Homo sapiens: one gene and its partner. The protein of the gene in region 2 purifies or fractionates together with the protein of the main gene of each other region. This does not show direct contact. Each region holds a gene or a part of one and is shown on either strand. Other genes may lie near its edges.

Region 1 (2,887 bases), on a different chromosome or scaffold from region 2:
AAAAAAAAAAAAAAGGTGGAGAAAGGACAAGATCTGATTTAAAGTTTAGAATTATCCTTCTGGCTGCAAGTGGAGAATAGGCTGTAGGACGAGGAGGGAGAAAGCAGTAAGACTGATGAGGATGCCGCTGCACCATCTATGGGAGATGACGCTGGCCTGGATGCAGTGGAGACTGTGGGGTTCAAAGTGGTGAGACTTGGGATATGTTTTGGAGTCGAGTGGCCAAAACCCTGTGACTGCTCAGATGTCATAGGGGTGAGGCCAGGCACAGTGGCTCACGCCTGTAATCCCAGCACTTTGGGAGGCCGAGGCAGGCGCATCACCTAAGGTCAGCAGTTCGAGACCAGCCTGGCCAACATGGTGAAACCCCGTCTCTACTAAAAATACAAAAATTAGCCAGGCATGGTGGTGGATGCTTGTAATCCCAGTTACTCAGGAGGCTGAGGCAGGAGAATCGCTTGAACCTGGGAGGCGGAGGTTGCAGTGAGCCGAGATCACGTCACTGCACTCCAGCCTGGGTGACAGAGGGAGACTCCGTCTCAAAAAAAAAAAAAAAAAAAAAAAAAGTCATAGGAGTGAGAGAGAAGGAAGGGCCAAGGAAGCCCCCAGATTTCAGGCTTAAGACATTAGATGGATGGAGGTGCCTTTAACTAAGACAGGAAAGGTGAGGGAAGGTTGGGGGTGAGGATCAAGAACTCAGTTTGAATGGACATGTTGTTGAGATGAGCCCATTGCCAGACTGGGCCCTGGTAGCAGCCCTGAGCTGATGCCCCTTCCCTACCTGGGTAAGGGATCCGGCCGTAGGTGACGATCTCCATCAGCAGGATACCAAAGGACCAGACGTCTGACTTGATGGTGAAGGAGCCAAAGTTGATGGCTTCAGGAGCTGTCCACTTGATGGGGAACTTGGCCCCTGCAGGGTTGAACAGAGCAGAGTCGGGGAAGGCTGGGGAGTAGTGAGGGTTGGCTCTGCTAAGGTGGGGGAACAGGCAAGGGCAAGAGCTGCCAACATCTGCCCCTGCAGACCTGCAATTTCCCTGATACGTGGCCTCCCTGTGGAAGCAAGGGACATCCATCCTGAGGACAGATGGCTAAACAAGGAGGAGTGGGCTTAGGGGCCTGGGGTATGGTGTGGAAGTTCACTCTAGAATCCTCCTCGTTGATTCAGCTGATACCCCAGTTAACTGCAACTCCGAAGAGTGGAATCCCAGAGGTCACAGGTCTTTGGGGACAGAAGGACTTCAGGGGGCCTTGAGTCCAGGTTGCAGCTGATGCCTCAGTCCTCTCATCCTGGGCGATGGGAAAAGGGAGGATTCTGGCTCTCAGCCCATGAGGTTCCCACCAGTCACTATGTGTCTCTCCCTTTACCCGCCCTTCCTCCCACCTAGTCTGACATGGGTTTAGTTAGCCTTTTCATTTTTTTTTTCTTTTAGAGACAGAGTGCCCAGGCTGGAGCGCAGTGGCACAATCATAGTTCACTGAAGCCTCGAACTCCTGACCTCAAGCTATCCTCCTGCCTCAGCCTCTCAAGCCCCTGGGGTTACAGGTGTGCCCCATTATGCCAAGCTAATTAAAAAAATTTTTTTGGCCAGGTATGGTGGCTTGTGCCTGTAATCCCAGCACTTTGGGAGACCAAGGAGGAGGATCACCTGAGGTCAGGAATTCGAGACCAGCCTGGCCAACTCCATCTCTACTAAAAATACAAAATTAGCTGGGCATGGTGGCAGGTGCCTGTAGTTCCAGCTACAGGCTGAGACAGGAGAATCACTTGAACCCAGGGGATGGAGGTTGCAGTGAACCGAGATCACACCACTGCACTCCAGCCTGGATGATAGAGTCAGACTCCGTCTCAAAAATAAAATAAAATAAAATAAAATAAAATATAAAAAAATAGAAAAATTTGTAGAGACAGTGTTTTATTATGTTACCCAGCCTGTTCTCAAAACTCCTGGGCTCAAGTGATCCTCCCATCTTGGCCTCCTAAAGCACTGGGATTATAGGTGTGAGCCACCGCACCTGGCATAGTTATCCTTTTTTAAAAAGTGTTTAGTTTAATTATATCATGGTTGGTGAACATGGTCTATAGAATATATGTTCTTTGGAATTTGTTGAGACCTGCTTTATGACTGAGTACATGGTCAAGTTTTGAAAATGTTCTATGTGTGTGTTTGTGTGTGTGAGAGTGTGTGTGTGTGTATATGTTTTCTCCCTTCCTCCTTTGGATCTACAGACTTTTCTTGATTTCCTGCTTATCTTCTTCTGGTTTAGAAATTATACATTCTACTTTTATTCCTTTAGTCATTACATTTATTTATTTATTTATTTATTTATGTTTTGAGACAGGGTCTCGCTCTGTTTGCCCAGGCTGGAGTGCAGTGGTGTCATCTCAGCTCACTGCAAGTTCCGCCTCCCGGCTTTCACGCCATTCTCCTGCCTCAGTCTCCCAAGTAGCTGGGACTACAGGTGCCCGCCACCACGCCTGGCTAATTTTTTGTATTTTTAGTAGAGATGGGGTTTCACCGTGTTAGCCAGGATGGTCTCGATCTCCTGACCTCGTGATCCTCCCACCTCAGCCTCCCAAAGTGCTGGAATTACAGGCATGAGCCAACGTGCCCGGCCCTATTTATTTACTTTTTTGAGACAAAGTCTTGCTCTGTTACACAGGCTGGAGTGCAGTGACATGATCTTGGCTCACTGCAGCCTCAACCTCCTGGGCTCAAGCGATTCTCCCGCCTCAGCCTCCTGAGTAGCAGGGACCACAGGCTCACACCACCACGCCTGACTTATTTTTAAATTTTTTGTAGAGATGGGGTCTTGCTATATTGCCCAGGCTGGTCTTGAACTCCTGGGCTCAAGCAATCTGCCCATTTTGGCCTCCCAAAGTGCT
Region 2 (3,830 bases):
ATTCAGAGTCATTTAGCTGGGGCTAAATAGAAGATATTTTGTGCGAACTGCTTTTTATCATGACACTGGTTGCAAAAATGCCTGTGAATAAGAGTTCCTTACAGTATGGAACCTCTTCAGGAAAGATACAGATACAATAATTTCTTCAGTTTAGCATAATAACCTGCTTGATTAAAAAAATGGGTTATTGAGCAGTTAAGTGACGAATCAAGGTCATAAACATAAAAAACAGGATTATTTTTCTTGCTGTTTAATGCAAAACACATGTTTGCCATTGAAAGCGTCTGAAAGAACGCCAAGGGAAAAGAACATATTGTTCATCTGGATCTTCTCCTTTAACTTTTTTTTCAAATAAATAAAATAAAACAAAGGGAAGATAAAAGTACAGAAGAACATTCAATGGGAGTTTCTGGTGATTCTTTTACCAGGGAAAAGGCAAACAAACAAAAATAAAAACATGCTCTCTTACCTCTTCCTCCGCGGGGGATGGGGGCCGAGGTTTGTTTGGAAGTGGCAAGGGGAAGTTTCTGCCTTCGGCTCTGATAGGTGGTCTGTTGCTAGGGCCTTCAAAAGTATAGAATTCTGACAGTTAATTTACTGTAAGCTATTGTTTGCTGCTATCAAAACACAAAACACATTCCCCCCACTCCCCCAAAAAAATACCCTTGCGATTGGTCCTATAGTTCGCATTTTAAGAAACAAGGGCTTCAAAAATAATTTTCATCTGTTTGAAACCATGGGGGCTGCTCAGGCATTATTCTGTAATCATGCCAGTAAAACTTTGAGAAGAGAACCTCAACTTTGAGTGATTTTTCTAAATGTGCATGTTACATAATATAAAGTGACTAGATCCCTTTATAAAAAAATTCGCAATTGTTTTAATGAATGTGAACGTCAAAATGAATGCTCAAGAGACAAATTTTTCATAGATTCTTATAATATCATCATAGGCAGAATGGATTCCCAACAGCTGATGTAGGGACAATGCAATGATGAAGATAATTATGTTCTTAATGTTTCCACAAAAAGAAATGTAAGTGACCCAAGAGAAGACAAAATTACCTTGAGAATATTGCTAGCTTTTAGAATCAAAGTTGGCTACCCGCTGTTCTAACTAAACAGGTAGACTGTTCAACTCACATAGAAGGCACTACAGATCAGGAAGTTTTTACTGGGCAACTATTAATTACCCAGTGCTTGTGCCTCATCTTCTCTAAAACTCTTTTTTCTCATTTACAGTTCCTTGAAACTTTAGGAGAATGTTTCCTAATCTCAGGAAAGGTTTAGTTGTGTTTATTGCAGTTGCCCAGGGTATTTTCTATGTGCCAGGCTGTGGTTAAAAACAGAAAAATTCTGTGAGTCAAATGTTCTCTTAATTATTTAACCATCATTCATTCATACCTTCAACAAATATTTATTCAGCACAACTCTGTCCAGATCTTGAGTAAGGTATCGTGTGTACATTTTTTTTAATCCTCACAGCAACATTACAAGGTAGGTATTGTCTTCATTTTGCATATGGGGAAATACAGGCTCAGAGGCTAAGCAAATCATGCGCTATCAGTGGCAAAGCCAAAACTTAAACCTGTGGTTACCAAATGCTACTGTGCATGAGTCAGAATCCCTGGGCGACTTGCGAGCACCTGGGGCTCAGAAATCTGCATGTTAGCAAGTACTTCCGGTGGTTCTACACCACGGATTGTCACTACGTCTACCTTGTTACACCACTGAGGAGAGGAGAGTCACCTGTAAGGGCTAAAGCCTCCTGAGCCGCATCATCAAGATTATTTATGATGGTCCTTCCCTGTTTTTAAACAAGTCTCCTGAGCCACATCAACAGGATTGTTTAAGATGCTCCTTCCCTGTTTCTAAACAAGCTGGCCCTGAGCTGCCAGTGCCTTCCTTCTCCAAGTTCCCAGTGCCTAGACAGATCTTCCCCATCCCCATTTTTTTTGCAGTCCAACACTTGCACTTTTATAATGCTTGTTGAATGAATGAAACCTAACAATACAGGAGAGTAACAGAACCAAGGCCCGCATTGCATGGCCATTCTACAGTTAAGAAATGATTCTCTTTCTGCCTCTGCACCTGCAGGCCAGCATCATAGAGTTCTAAGTTACAACAGAGAAGCACATACACTTTTTTATTGCAGTCACCTACCACCCTTAATATCTAGACTCTCAAGGGAGTCATGACAGGTTTTTGGGCAATGCACAGCACAAACTTTATCCTTCTGATGTTGGAACAACCAGTAGAACCAGTAGAGAAGACCGAGGACCAGGTGTCCTGGCAGTCTTAGGGGAAAAGAGATCAATTTGGATCAAGCTAATGTTCCAAAAATAATTAACTATTTGCATTAATAAGCCCCATCACAGACTCATAAAACTGGAGATCTGTGGAACTTGCTTTGGAAAATAATGCTGTGATGTGTCTGGGACTCAGATGGCTACAGAGGCAAGGAGGTAACACAAATGTGTGTTTGCAAAACACAGAGAATTTTGGGGATTGTGGAAAATTAGGGGTTGGGCGAGAAACTGTGAAAACCATGTGGTGAACGTGGACACCACCATAACCTCAAATGCTTAGAAAACATTGAAAACTTAGTGGGTGCCACTGGCGTCAGCAGTGGGATCTCGCCCCTCTATGGAATGATGCATCCAACTGAATACCCTAGATGTGTTCTTGGAAAAAATGTTGATTCTCAGGCTATCAACTCACATTTACTAACATAGTTTTCTACTGAACACACACTGGCCCGTGCACACACTGCATGTGGAACATGACTGCAAAAAAAGTGGCTTTTCTGTTGTCATTCTTCACAGCATTTTTTAAAAATTTAAGTCAACATTTAAAAATTAAATAATTTCACTTTTCTTGAGAAAAAAATTGGAAAATCTGGCAATGCTAAGCCAGTTTCCTGGAATGCTACTTACTAGAGTTGGGTAACTTTCCCTAGTCATTTGATGCTCATTCGACAAGCATTTTTAAAGTGCCTACCAAGTGCCTGTCACTTGCAAGTCTTTAAGGATAAAAAGCACAAATTAGTCCTGCCCCAGTGCCTTTCAAAGTGGTTCATGAACCAGCAGTCACAGCATCGCATGGAATATGTTAGAAATTCAGAAACTCAGGCCTCACCCCAGACCTCCTGAATTAGAATCTGCATGTTAACACAATTCCCAGGTGATCTATATGCACTTTCAAGTTGCAGAACACTCTAAGCGAATACTAATCATGGACGTCCAGAGGTGGTATTATTAAAAACACAGGTCCCTGACTTCACTCCGGACTTACTGAATCAGAATCTGTGACGTTAAGTTCTCTTAGTTTGTATTTTGAACATGCTCCCCAACTCACAACCATGGACAGATTGATCATGGAAATCTAAAACTGCAGAGAAAGGCAAACAGGATTCTGAGGATTCCGTAGGGAAACCGGAGCTGGAGGAATAGTTCTGCACAGGAAGATTGGGGATGAGGGCTGGCTTCCTGGTGAAGTGTGTGTAGGTGTGTCCATGTATGTATGTGTGTATGCATGTGCATGTGTGTGCATGTATTGTGTATGTGTATATATGTGTATACCTGTGTGCACATGTATATATGTGTACATGTGTATGCATGTGTGTGTGTGCATGTATATGTGCATGTGTGTATGGGCATGTATATGTATACGTGTGTGTGTATGTGTTGTGTTTTAGGTACTATCCTATCATTCCGACAGCCCTTGGCACACTGCAGACACGGAATTAAATGTTGAATGAGGAAATCAGATGCTTTTAGGAAACAATAAAACCTTTGTCGAAAGCTTTTGGGACAGGTTAGGGATCCAGTCAT

Evidence for each region.
Region 1: the proteins of LCP2 (region 2) and HCK purify together in Homo sapiens (pull-down; one study listed by IntAct). This does not show direct contact.

What each region holds. Positions count from the first base shown.
Region 1 is NC_000020.11:32,097,030-32,099,916, reverse strand, and holds part of HCK (tyrosine-protein kinase HCK), read right to left. Parts: intron 914-2,887; coding exon 782-913; intron 1-781. UniProt on the Homo sapiens protein: Non-receptor tyrosine-protein kinase found in hematopoietic cells that transmits signals from cell surface receptors and plays an important role in the regulation of innate immune responses, including neutrophil, monocyte, macrophage and mast cell functions, phagocytosis, cell survival and proliferation, cell adhesion and migration.
Region 2 is NC_000005.10:170,252,650-170,256,479, forward strand, and holds part of LCP2 (lymphocyte cytosolic protein 2), read right to left. Parts: intron 565-3,830; coding exon 470-564; intron 1-469. UniProt on the Homo sapiens protein: Adapter protein primarily involved in signaling pathways within T-cells, as well as other immune cells such as platelets, mast cells, and natural killer (NK) cells.